Homo sapiens: one gene and its partner. The protein of the gene in region 1 purifies or fractionates together with the protein of each later gene. This does not show direct contact. Each region holds a gene or a part of one and is shown on either strand. Other genes may lie near its edges.

What was found.
Region 2: the proteins of TNS1 (region 1) and DMD purify together in Homo sapiens (co-immunoprecipitation; 2 studies listed by BioGRID and IntAct, with this or other methods). This does not show direct contact.

What each region holds. Positions count from the first base shown.
Region 1 is NC_000002.12:217,845,984-217,853,017, reverse strand, and holds part of TNS1 (tensin-1), read left to right. Parts: intron 1-2,829; exon of another isoform or gene 2,830-3,157; coding exon of another isoform or gene 3,158-3,341; intron 3,342-3,930; coding exon 3,931-5,508; intron 5,509-7,034.
Region 2 is NC_000023.11:32,361,537-32,368,570, forward strand, and holds part of DMD (dystrophin), read right to left. Parts: intron 3,664-7,034; coding exon 3,484-3,663; intron 3,175-3,483; coding exon 3,046-3,174; intron 1,423-3,045; coding exon 1,252-1,422; intron 1-1,251. UniProt on the Homo sapiens protein: Anchors the extracellular matrix to the cytoskeleton via F-actin. Ligand for dystroglycan.

The sequences.
Region 1 (7,034 bases):
ACAGATCCTGCTGCTATGCTGGGGTTTCAGCAGAGTCCTCATCAGGGCTGGACAGGCCTGGGATCAGCCTGGGTATTCTCAAAACCTCCCTTGGATAGGAAGAGGACAACTCAGCAAAGGTGCTGAGTGGCCTGGAGGGTGCAATCTGGGGCCAAGAGACATTTCCATTTGTAGTTAGCGAACAGGAGTTAATTAAACAATTTGCATCTGTTCGATTTTCTTACTATGCCTTAGTGGCTTGGCTATGATTGTTCCTGATGTTGTTGCTGCAAACAGGAGCCCACTTGGGGATAGATTACATGACAGAACAAGTTTAACATTGACATTTTCAAAATCGATGCTGAGTGGGGCTTGGCCACAGGGGCAAGGAAGGGCTGAGATATCAGGTAGTCAATTCTCTCTCCTGCCTGGGGGATGCCTTCATAGTTTTTCTGTTAGTCATGACTGAGATGCTGCAGGGGCCTATGTGCTTTCTGATTTGAATTTGCCCCCATGGCTCTCACTGTGGAACATGTCTAAGTGGGGAAGCCACTGGACACACCAGCCTTTGCTTTGCAGCTCCCCACTTCTCAGACCACATGAGCATGAACGTGGGGGATGAGGAGGCACAAAGGATGGAGGGGATCACTGGCCCAGGAGGGAAATTCTGGCACCTCACAGTGTAGGTGGCAGAGGGGGTGCCCTGGCTCAGGAGGGGGCCTGCAGCTTTCTAGGGACAGTGAGAAGGAAAGCCAGCTCTTCAGATTTCGGCCAACTTGTCCAAGGGGCCCCATCCTCAAGAGAACCACCCCAGAGCTATGAGTGCATCAGAGGCTCCTGTCTTCAGTGCTTTGCCCCCTAGAAACAGGCGGCTGGGGTCTCTTCTTTTTTTTTGAGATGGAGTCTTGCTCTGTCACCCAGGCTGGAGTGCAATGGTGCGATCTCGGCTCACTGCAACCTCTGCCTCCCAGGTTCAAGTGATTCTTCTGCCTCAGCCTCCCGAGTAGCTGGGATTACAGGCATGTGCTACCACGCCTGGCTAATTTTTTGTATTTTTAGTAGAGGTGGGGTTTCACCATTTTGGCCAGGCTGGTCTTCAACTCCTGACCTCAGGTGATCCACCTGCCTCAGCCTCCCAGAGTGCTGGGATTACAGGCATGAGTCACCATGCCAGGCTGAGGTCTCTTCTTTTATGTGTAGCAAGGAGCTCAGTTCTTTGGAGAGAGTGGGCATGAAGGTCAGCCTCCCTCATCCTACAGGGAGAGGACCCCTTTACGATGATAATAGGGGGTTGGAAGAGGCAGCTGTGCCTGGTCCTGCATCTTAGCAGCCTTTAGGGGTCTAGGCACAGGGCCAGGTTGGTGGAGATTCAGAATGTATTTTAGCCAAAACCCCTTTTCAGTTCAGACCAGCCCTGGGCCCTGGGCCCTGGGCTGCTGCAATACTTTGGTCCTGTGTTGTCTGGGGCTGGTGTTGGCTGAGGTCCCAAAGCCTTGGGGAAAACTGGGGGCAGAGGGGTGGATCTGGAGAGGTCAGTAAATGAGGAGGGCATCCAGTCCCTGGGGTGTGTGTGTGTGTGTGTGTGTGTGTGTGTGTGTAGAGGGATGCAAGTGCCTGGTGGAGCATCTTTGTGCCAGTTCTCTGTGTTGTAACATGGCTGGCCTGTGGTCTGTGTGTGTGTATGTTGATTGGGATGTTCCTGTTTTGTGGTTGTCTGATCACTTGTTTTTGGCCATGGGCTTCTGTCAGAGTGTTTATTTTTAGAGGCTGCCACTTCTGGCCTAAGGGCTGATCCTTGGGCATGGTAGGAACATTTGTATTTTCTGAAATATTTGTGGCTTTAAGTATTTATTTGGGGGTATTCCTGCCTGTTATGTGTTTATTCTAATTTGTGTGTATGTGTGTGTGTGTGTGTTTGTGATATGAGGGAGGTGTAGCATAATAAAAATTACATACTGTTTGAAGGAAATTAGCTCTGATTTTAAATCTTGGCTTTATCAGGTAGCATTGTTGGCACATAAATGGTTTCCCCTCTCAGAGGCTCAGTTTCTCCCTTACTGTGATGGGTGTAATACTGTCTGGCTCGGAGGCGATGGCTAGAGAGGATGTGCGTGTAGAGTGCCTGGCGAAGTGTTGGCGTTTGCGCTGTGCTCACTGCACGGTGGTCACTGTTGTTGGTATTTGTGTGTACATGTTCATGCCGGTGCTGTCTGACTGTGGTTCTTGGCATTGTGTGGCACCTAGTGTGTGCTCATGCCTGGGTGTTTCTGATTTGGGTGATCTCTTACTGTCTTTTTGTCTGGCTCGGTGTGTGACTGCTGGTGTCTGGCTGGAGCTGGTGCAGTCTTTGGGAGCTGGCTTTTTTCCTTGCTAACGGAGAGCCTGGATTAGAGTAAGGGGAGGTGCGTGCGTGCGTGTGTGTGTGTGTGTGTGTGTGTGTGTGTGTGTGTGTGTGTCTGTCGGGGCTGGTGGCTGGGCTGCTGACTGTACAGGGTGTGAAATCACTGAGTTCCTCTGGGCGGGGAAGTTCTTCATTCCTGAGTCAGCCCTTTGGCCCCGAGCCACCCAGCGCTCACTTTTTCCTTCCAGAGAAAGTGTTGCTCAGGGGGGTCCTCAGAGCTGTCTGCAGACAAGAGGACCCTCTCCCCCATGAAGACATCTTGTTTTTGTGTTCACGATCCCTAAGACGCTTCCCCTCCTGCCCTAGTCCCTGAACCCCCTGCATCAGCACCCTATATGCCCCCCATCCTCCAGCATAGGAAAAGCGTGTCCCCTCTGGCACAGGGACTGTTGGCTTGGCTGAGCCCCACCTTGGCCTGTTCTTCAGGGGCCCCCGGGCTGGCTCAGAGCAGTGGGATCAGGATGCTCGTCTTTGCAGACCTGCTGTGATCCTGCCCGGCATACCTTCCCAGGACCCGCGTCCCTTTCCTGGAGTCTTGAGTGGTATGGGCTGAGCTTGCTGGTGGAGGGGTAGGGGTCCATCAGGAGTGGGCAGTGCTGGGGAGGAGCTGGGAGGAGCCTCTGGAAATGTGGCAGTGGGCAGCATGAATGACATTGTATCTCTGAATGGTTCTATCACATCCTTTGCATTGAGCTGGAGACAAATCTAGCTGAGGGCAAGCTTGTCTTAGAGAGTCCCAGCTCTGCCTTCAGCCTCCCTGCCACCACCACCTTGGGCATGGTGGGGCCCTTTGCTGCACCCTACTGCCCTCCTGGGTTCTCCCCCTGCTTCCGTGGGCAAAGGCTATCCTCGGGGCGACTGGCCGTCCATGCTGATACCTCTATGGGCATTCAAGGCAATGGCTACTCTCCTGGCATTCTGCCTCTAATCCAGAGTGGGAACTCCAGACATCGAAGCAGGGGTGAGACTTTTTGAGATGGGGTGGCGGAGGGGACTGAGGATGCTTTGGAAATGGTCATTCAGGAATTAATGATACTCATAATGGTGATGGTTAGGGCTCCCAGCTGTTGAACTCCCATCACGTGCCAGGAACTGGTCTCAGCATGTCATGTGTCAACTCATTTAAACTCAAAGCACAGTGTATTTAATGAATATTGGCAATTTCAGATGGTTCAACCAGATTCTATTATTATCCCCATTTTATGGACCAGGAGGCTGGCTCAGAGAGTTATTCATGCCTCTGGTCAGGAAGCTGGTGAAATGCCAGAGCTAGGCTTGGGACTGGAGCGATTTGCCCCCAGCACTTCCTGCTCAGTGTTGGGCTCCACTGCCCGGCCCTGAAGCTGAGTGTTGGTGAGGCTCTGCCCCAAAGCCTGGGGTAGAGGTCTTTCTGTCAGCTCCCCTTTTCCCCACCTCAGGGTGGTGAGAGGAGGTTTTAGGATGCAGGGCATGGGAGCTCTTAGCTTCTTTCTCTGGCAGAGTGGATGATACCCCTGCCTCCCGCTAATGTCTGTTGTCTGTTGTCTCCCCTCCGGCTCTGTCCCTTGCAGAGGTGGTGGGACACACGCAGGGGCCACTAGATGGGAGCCTGTATGCTAAGGTGAAGAAGAAAGACTCCCTGCACGGCAGCACCGGGGCTGTTAATGCCACACGTCCTACACTGTCGGCCACCCCCAACCACGTGGAACACACGCTTTCTGTGAGCAGCGACTCGGGCAACTCCACAGCCTCCACCAAGACCGACAAGACCGACGAGCCTGTCCCCGGGGCCTCCAGTGCCACTGCTGCCTTGAGTCCCCAGGAGAAGCGGGAGCTGGACCGCCTGCTGAGTGGCTTTGGCTTAGAGCGAGAGAAGCAAGGCGCCATGTACCACACCCAGCACCTCAGGTCCCGCCCAGCAGGGGGCTCGGCTGTGCCCTCCTCTGGACGCCACGTTGTCCCAGCCCAGGTTCATGTCAATGGTGGGGCGTTAGCATCTGAGCGGGAGACAGACATCCTGGACGATGAATTGCCAAACCAGGATGGTCACAGTGCGGGCAGCATGGGCACACTCTCTTCTCTGGACGGGGTCACCAACACCAGTGAGGGGGGCTACCCAGAGGCCCTGTCCCCACTGACCAACGGTCTGGACAAGTCCTACCCCATGGAGCCTATGGTCAATGGAGGAGGCTACCCCTACGAGTCTGCCAGCCGGGCGGGGCCTGCCCATGCTGGCCACACGGCCCCCATGCGGCCCTCCTACTCTGCACAGGAGGGTTTAGCTGGCTACCAGAGGGAGGGGCCCCACCCAGCCTGGCCACAGCCAGTGACCACCTCCCACTATGCCCATGACCCCAGCGGTATGTTCCGCTCTCAATCCTTTTCGGAAGCTGAACCCCAGCTGCCCCCAGCTCCGGTCCGAGGGGGAAGCAGCCGGGAGGCTGTGCAAAGGGGACTGAATTCGTGGCAGCAGCAGCAGCAGCAGCAGCAGCAGCCTCGCCCACCTCCACGCCAGCAGGAAAGAGCCCACTTGGAGAGTCTTGTAGCCAGCAGGCCCAGCCCTCAGCCATTGGCAGAGACCCCCATCCCCAGTCTCCCTGAGTTCCCGCGAGCAGCCTCCCAGCAGGAGATTGAACAGTCCATCGAAACACTCAATATGCTGATGCTGGACCTGGAGCCAGCCTCCGCTGCTGCCCCACTACACAAGTCCCAGAGTGTCCCCGGGGCCTGGCCAGGGGCTTCTCCACTCTCCTCCCAGCCCCTCTCTGGATCCTCCCGTCAGTCCCATCCACTGACCCAGTCCAGATCTGGCTATATCCCCAGTGGGCATTCGTTGGGAACCCCTGAGCCAGCCCCACGGGCCTCTCTGGAGTCTGTCCCTCCTGGCAGGTCTTACTCACCTTATGACTATCAGCCATGTTTGGCTGGGCCTAACCAGGATTTCCATTCAAAGAGCCCAGCCTCTTCCTCCTTGCCTGCCTTCCTTCCGACCACCCACAGCCCTCCAGGGCCTCAGCAACCCCCAGCCTCTCTCCCTGGCCTCACTGCTCAGCCTCTGCTCTCACCAAAGGAAGCGACTTCAGACCCCTCCCGGACTCCAGAGGAGGAGCCATTGAATTTAGAAGGGCTGGTGGCCCACAGGGTAGCAGGTAAGAGGTATTCAGTCCTGACTCCTTCTACCCCTTCCTTATTTGGTCTTGCTGGGGGGAGGTGCAGGTCCAGCCATGACCCCTAAGCAGATGTTGCTTTCACTGGTGGGAGGAGGCTCTCAGGAGCCTATATGCTAGCCAGTTATCCCTTCCTGCATTCATTGTCTGATAGGCACCAAGCCAGACACCAAGTTTCAAAGTTCAATGTCAAGCAATTCCTGCCCTCAAGAAATTTACAGTCTAGTGAGCGGACAGATACACAGACAGATGATTTCATTAGAGAGTAATGTGTACGGTGACAGAGGTGGGACCAAGATCCCAGAGCCTGGGAAAGCAAAGCTTACCACCTAGGGCAGTCAGGGAAAGCTTCCAGGAGGTGGTGACTTTGGGGTTGGAGTACAGACTTTCTAGACACAGAGGAGACTCTGCAATTGCCTGTCGTGCTGTCTGTCCTCAGACTTTAGTTCCTTGGGGGAGACGTGGAGAAGGCTGGAGGGAGGCCTTTGTAGACTCAAATTCCCTCTTAGGTCCCGCTCCTAGAGGCCATGAAAGAGTCCGAGAGGGTATCCTCAAGCCCTTAGGCTCTATCTGCTGGGGCGGGGAGGCCAAGGTTCCCCTTCTAAGTCAGTTTTCCTGTTAGTCTTTGCTGAGGACCAGCCCTGTATGGGAAGTAGGTGCTGAGAGACAAAGCTCCTTTTCCTATCAGAGAGTGGGCTTCTCTTTTGGGAGAGAGGAAAGTGGGACACTCAGAAGAGCTTTTGGGGAGACAAAGGCAAGAAATGACAGCATGTCTGGGGCCATGTTGGGAGAGACAGCTGCGAGGTTCCCTTCCCACTGGTCTAAGCCTATGCCCATTCCACAAGGGTGGCTGAACTTGGCAGGAAAACCTGTTGGGTGACTTTATTCTGGAGGTGGAGCCCAGACAGGGGTGGACCAGAGACTGTGGATTTGGGTGGACCTTGTGCCAGCCCCTCAGCTGACAGGGTGGTGGGAGCTCAGCGAGGAGGAGAGGAGCCTGGGCAGCTGTCTCTGTCCTCCACCCCTTTTCCTAAATTTAGGGGAAGCTGAGTCACCATGCCAGCTGCAGGGAGGGAAGGAAACACCCTCCCTGGAGATGGACCGTGGGTTTAGGGAAGCAGCTTGGGGCAGGCCAGCTGGCTCAGGACCTGGTGTGGGGACACAGGCTCCCTGCTCCTATACTTCAGAGCAGAGCAGAGTCCCCAGCTCCACTATTGGTATAATAGCTTGAAATTGGCCATTGCAGGAGTATTTACACCATGGAAATTGGCAATCAGCCTCACCTCCCATAGAGAGCTGGCCTAGCAGTAACAATTCCTTTTACCTGAGCATCGGAACAAAGGATGGGCAGTTCTTAACCTCGGATGAAACGCTCCATGGGTGGTCCATATGGGCTTTGACTTCTGCCTTCTCCCACATCTGGGCCCCTGAGATAAAGATACCCCCCTGGCTTTGTCAGCAGAGATCCTTTTCTTCTTGGTTTTTTTGAGGTGAGAGGGATGGGGCTT
Region 2 (7,034 bases), on another chromosome or scaffold:
AATTTGGGAAGGTGAATTTTGAAGGGTAACTGTGTCTCATGCATACAAGCTAAACTATTTAGAATTTATCATGTCACATTTCACTTATTTTGAAAACTACTTTAAATATGTACTATTATATAACATGATGAGACACTGTAATGCCTTAGAAAGTGCAGCAATTGTGAAACCATGCTATTACTGGTTGCTTATATCTATCAAAATATTTTTTGAAAATGTTCTATTTTTCCAGGAATCAATACTTACCTGACATACTGCATCATATTTTCTCATAAATACTCCAATGTTTTTTTCATTTCAGATTATTTCTAACAATTATCTATATACCTAAATACATATATTGATTTTATATACATTTTTATGTTTGAAAGCATATCATATATATTGAAATTTATCAAACTACAGTATATAAATTTCTAGGTAATTACTTGCATTTCAAATCTTCCCAAAGAGCTGAAATTCTATAACACTATATTTATACATTTTTGCAAACTACTTATTAAATAAGACTTTCTCTTCATCAAATCATACACAAATATAAAGTCTATCACGCAAAAGTTCCATATTCCCTGGTTCTTCTTAAACAGTAATATAAATAGGCATATAAAATTACAAAAATTAGGATATGTAAGCTTTGCAATGATTTGTTTTCATGGCGTGATCATTTCATTATAGCCTAATGAATTTTGTCACAGTGTCTACAACTAGCAAAAGCAAGTTAAACAAACACACTTGCACAACCAGTAAAGAGGTAAAAAAACACCCTAGACCGTGCAGAAGATGTACAAGACCTCATTTTGGATATTTGATCCACATTACATACAAGCAATATTGTATCAGTACTGCTTTTGGCAAAATTTATCGGTAGTGCTTTATGTTGATGGATGACTTGTGTGCTTTTGGTTTTATTTATTTTTTTGGCCTTCAGCATGCTATTTGTTATTTTTTTCTGTAGGTGACCCCTGAAAGTACGTATGTAAACTGCAGCATAGAATGCAGTCCTAGAATATCTATGGCAGCAAAAGATGAGAGAGAAAAAGAGACAGAGAGAGACAGAGAGAGACAGAGACGGGGAGGAGTGGCGTTTATCTCCCATTATAATCAGTGGTAAAATTTCCTTAAATACATTTTGGCATTCATTTTCCTTTTGAAAACCTTGCTGTGGGGTCTACTTGCCCCTTTCAGAGTACTGCGCAACCTTCGCAAGAGACCATTTAGCACAAGTTTCCACCTTGGAGTAGATCTTCCTACCTTTCCAGTCTTAATTCTGTGTGAAATGGCTGCAAATCGATGGTTGAGCTCTGAGATTTGGGGCTCTACTAATTTCCTGCAGTGGTCACCGCGGTTTGCCATCAAGTTTGCTGCTTGGTCACGTGTAGAGTCCACCTTTGGGCGTATGTCATTCAGTTCTGCCTTTAAACGCTATATTCCATGAGCAAGAGATAGGACTTGAAGTTAGTAATTAATGAAGGTCAAGATAGAAAAAGAGAGCCAAACAGAGCGAGTGAGCAAGTGAGCGAGAAGAGTGAGAAAGAGAGAGAGAGAAAGTAAGAAAATGAGAGCAAGCACATGCAGAAAATACAAAGGGAGATAAAACCACAACTTCCATAAAACAGGACTAAAATGAAAATGCGTGTGATTTCAGAAAAATAGATCACCGTCCTTAAGTTTGATGCATGTCTATTTAAAATGTTTATTTAGTCCGAGGAAGGACAGGGATGTTTTCCCAACTATGTTGTTGCAACTATCATAATATATTCTATTTAGTCTTATTTTATTATATCGTTACTGAATTTAATAGTTGTGGAATGAACTAAGTATGTGCTCAGGAGGTCAGGTAGCTGAAGAACACTTTTCTATTCCTTCCTAGCACTTTCAAGTTCCTCTTTATTACATTGAGTGTCATAAGAAAAAAAGTGATTTTCTAACACATACGAATTTTCTGTCACATACAGAGGTACTGAGGAATGTTCTTCCTGACCTGCCGGGTCACAGAGGTTGAAGTTAAATAACTCAGACCCTATTATTCAAAAAGCCTTGAAGGAAATTCACCATAAGATGACATCTCTGACTATACATCAAGGGATAATGAAGAGCACAATACAGATCCACATCAAAATAAGCTTCAGACAATGGCATAAATGTGTTTTGGGGATAGCCTGGAATGAATTTATAGTTTTTCATTAAAGGTATATCGTAATCTGTGGAAAATATCAGAGGCATAAAAATAAATTGCATAGAAAGAAACATAATTTTTGAGTTTTCTTTAAATAGTAAACAACTAATCAATAAATTTATCAAACATTGCAGCAAAACAAAATAAAAAATGTTTATTGAAAAGAGAGCTGTTAAAATTCAACTCTACCTATTTAATTGGGAAAAGAGACATCATCAAATAGAAACAATGTAGTGTCTATAAGGTATATTTGCGTATTACACCTCTCATACCCTTTTATCGGAATCATTTTTTAAAGAAAAGATTAAGTTCCCCTTGAAAAAGAAGACAGGGCATCCTAACAGTCAGTTTTGAGACTAAAAGAAAGAACCCAAAGCCTAGTTTACATGTAGTTAAAAATGAAAACCTCAGCTTTACATAAGCCCAACATTAAGACTAATTACCAAGATTTGGATATGGCATAGGCAAAAAAATCAGCTGACTGGATTTCAGGTGTTCATTCAGATGGGCTAAATGAATGATAGTGTCAGATTGTTCTTTGTGTTAGACACAAGAATGTAGTACCACCATTGACAAAGGCAGAAATTTGCAATATGATTTCAAAATAAATCTTGGAATATCTTTCTGAACGGAGTTTACATTGGGTATAATTAACTGAGTGATGGATTTGAACAGAAAGTCAGATTACAGAACTCTTCAAAATCATTCATTTCCATTCAAAGGGGGAAGGAAGGAAAAAGGGAAAGATAAAGGAAGGAAGAAAGGATTGTTTTACTCTTATTAAGACGTCCTTAGTATCTTTTAGGACAAAGATGATTGAAGTAACTGGTGTACAATTTGGACATTACTTTTCATATTTTATTTGCTACCTTAAGCACGTCTTCTTTTTGCTGGGGTTTCTTTTTCTCTGATTCATCCAAAAGTGTGTCAGCCTGAATGATCCACTTTGTGATGTGGTCCACATTCTGGTCAAAAGTTTCCATGTGTTTCTGGTATTCCTTAATTGTACAGAGACATACCATGGCATTATTGGTTAGACAATATTCTTAAAGAATTTTTCCTATGTTCTAAAATGTTTAAAAGACAACAATAAAGTTTCATTGAGATTAGTTTTAAGTGGTATTTTCATATAGAATATTGCGTAAATATAAAGAAAAATATATTAAAATATTGTTATAGATATTGAATTAAGAGCCAGCATATACGTAGAATTGAGAAATTTTCAAACACAGAATTGTTACTGGTCACTTATGTATCTTTTTCTCGTGACAGAGAAGGGTGTAAAAGCTTCTAGCCTTTTCTCTTACCAACAAAAGATTTAACCACTCTTCTGCTCGGGAGGTGACAGCTATCCAGTTACTATTCAGAAGACTGAGTTTATCTTCCACCAACGTCTCCTTCTTGCCCAAAACTGTTTTCAAGGCCTCTCCTACCTCTGTGATACTCTTCAGGTGCACCTTCTGTTTCTCAATCTCTTTTTGAGTAGCCTGTGAAAAGGAGAGCATTGACCTTCAAGTAATGTCTTGTAGTCTTAAGATTTAATGCTTATGAAACGGCTTTCTGTATGGTTACTATGATTCTGCAAGGTTTTAAACCTATAACTATGTATTAATGAATCATGAAAACCATACCATATATACTGAAGCTTCATTGTTGGGTAACTATGAACATATATATGTACATAAGCATAATTCATGTCTTATTTTTCATTATAAATATTTAATAAACATACATATTGTTCAACTAAATATATTTATATTTATTTAATTTATACATGTAGTGGCTAAAGGCAGATATTTGAAAATCCATCCACAAATAAGAAACTGCCCTTAGAAAATTCTACAGTATGGTGCTACTGTATTTCTGCAGCAGGGATTTTTTTAGCCTTTTAGTGCCATGGATCTTTTTGGCATCTGTTGAAGCTTAAAAACCCATTCTCATAATAATGCTTTTAAATGCATAAAACAAAATACATAGGATTTTAAATGAAAACAATTATACTGAAATACAATGTGCAACACATTTTTTAAATATTTGTGATGTAGTAATACATGTTTTATTTCCTAATATGTTAATTAACAAGATCTAGCATCAGGTCTTTAGGATAATTTCAATGTAGTGATGACGAGCATAACTGGTATTTTTAAGTATGTACAATGTCTGGAACACGTTATAAAAGTATCTGTCATTTCTATTAGTGACAAAGTCATGGGTATCTCTATTGCTGGAGTTTGTTGCTCACATTTTAACTGAAAAAACTGCTTACTTTTGGTTTTAATTGAATACAAATAAAGATAAAGTTTTCCCCCAATCCAAGTTCACAGACCTTATTTCTATCCACATACCCTAGACTAAAATCTCCTAAGAGAATACCACTATTTCCTAAGAGGTGATTTATAAAACATGAAAACAATCACATTTAACATGAAAAAAGATAGAGAGTAGTGATGGAAAAAGTGATCTTAGTACAAAGGTTTACTACCTGCCCTGCATAAAGCCCCTTTCCTGGTACATGGCACGGCTGACAGACAATGTGGCCACTCGGCATTCCACTGAGTCTGTGCCTGGTTCTTTCCCTGCCTGTCTAGTTAGCCAGCTGTGGGACATTCACAGAGAGCTGAGCCAGAGCCCAACAGACCCTTTTTCTCCTTTCTCAATAAGGTTAACAGATACAGAGACTGTGATTGGCACTCGAGTTGAAAAGCTATTTGCGAGTGGAGCTGATGTCTTAATCACAGAAAGCCAAAGCAAAACAAAATCATTGAGAAACAGCAATAACAGGAAAGTGGAGAAAGTCCAGATACAAATAATCAATTAATAAACACACAAGGAGCAGCTCTGTAATGCCAGCCTACATCTAATTTCTTAAGAAAAAAATTACAGTACAAGAGTAAGAAATTAGGTATAGGCTGGCCTCATAGAGTCACTCTCAACATGTCTTTTCTATCTTTATAATATACCTAAGTAGTCCTGTGGCTGTCTTTCTGCCACGCCATAAGGTCCTGGTCCACTCGAAATCACTTCTCATACTTTCTGTTTTGGTTTTGCCTTTGGCATCGGATAAACAGGAGAAATAAATGAGGAAACAATGTATAAAAATTTTTATGCAAGACAAAAACACTGTTTCTTCAATTCTAAGATATGGTTTTATGTCACATTTTTTCAATAAAAACATGCCTGAAATTAAGGTACTTAATGCCAGATGAACTCGACAGCTATCATGCATGGGGTTCTTCATATGTAGGTGCTATTTGTTGCACACAGGTGAGCTTAGCAATTCATAAAAGCAATTTCTTCATTTATCAATCGTAAGTGTTGCCTGAGCTCCTATTATATGCCAGTTACTACTGTAGCAGAATCATATGTAATTCTCCTCAATATATTCTGGGAGATTATTAGAAGTCTCTCATTTGGGTAGATACAGACCCTTTAGAGCTTAACTTCAGAGTAGACATAGACTAGATTTTATTCCTTTTAATACTTTGACTTCAACCTTTTGTAGTATACAACCTCTACAACCATAGATGTTAGCCATTGTTACTAGGCTCTGTGGGATAAAACGGTAGAGAAGTCCCCATCCTTCAAAAACTTATATCCAAGTATGAGTTTGTCAAAGAGATGGACATATACGCAAATGAGAATTATCTACTTTCTATATTCCAGTCTACTGGCATCTCGCTGTAGTTGATTTATTCACAAAGGTAACCCTTCACAAAGTTGAAGCTTAATTTATATTTGGATTACTAATTATCTCTTAATAAGTCTTCATAAAGATGACACTATATTTTAGCATCAATGTAAAAAGTTATTGTGTACATAGATTTTGTTTCTTACATGACAAGCAATGCAATTAAAGGCAATGGAATTTTCCAAAACTCAGAAGAGATCACAAAAGTTTTGAACTTAGGGGATAATGTTGCAGGTAGTTCCTGGGTCACAGAAACCATTATGTGTCAACATCTGGCCAAATTCCTCCAGCTAATTTAAACAATGTCCAGTGATGTTCAGTTGATGGGAACAAAATAGGAAATGTGGACTAATTTCTAGTGCCTTCTTAAGTTCCACAAAATTATAAATTAAAACTAAAAGATGTTCAATTTATCACCATTATCAACTTGTATTTGAAAAAAGCAGTGATATGATGGTGGTTTATAACTGCTAATGGTCAAAAGTGATTCACAGGACAATTTACACTCTGTAAAAAAAGAGACCTAGAGTTAAACTTTTATGTATGCTATTCAACAATAAGGAACCAGTATTCAATCATTTGTATACATGCTGTTTTGGGTTAGGAAAAAATATTGTGTTAATTTAGTAGGCCTTAAATTTTTCCCTCAAATGTGTTTTTAATCAAAGATATGACTTAAGAAATAAGACTTAAATAAGACTTAGCCTTTAAATACTATGCTGAGCTTGCTTTCTGGAGATCTGAAATACTAATTGACCAATGTATATCAGGTGCCTAATATCCAGTCTGTACTGTGCTATTCACTGCCAGAGATGAGGAATGAGGTAATCTTTGCAAACCTCACTCTAATCATGCCTACAGTGTAGCTGCAGAGGAAAGCTTAAATGCAATAAAACAATTTGATATCATACTAGAAAAAAATCACATTTTTTTTTGGAAACAGATGAGCCATGGCTGGAATAAGCATGAATGACTACAAGGGAAAGGTGACACTTGAAGGCGGAGTGTGCATGGGATGGTTTGGATTGACTAAAGACAAAGTACGAAGCAACGAGAAGGTATGAAAGTTAGAATACAAGGCTGCCATAGAGGAACAGGGAATTCTTACTGTAAACTAAAAGAATACATTTGATGAGGTTGTTGACGAACCATTTTCTCTGGCTCTAATAG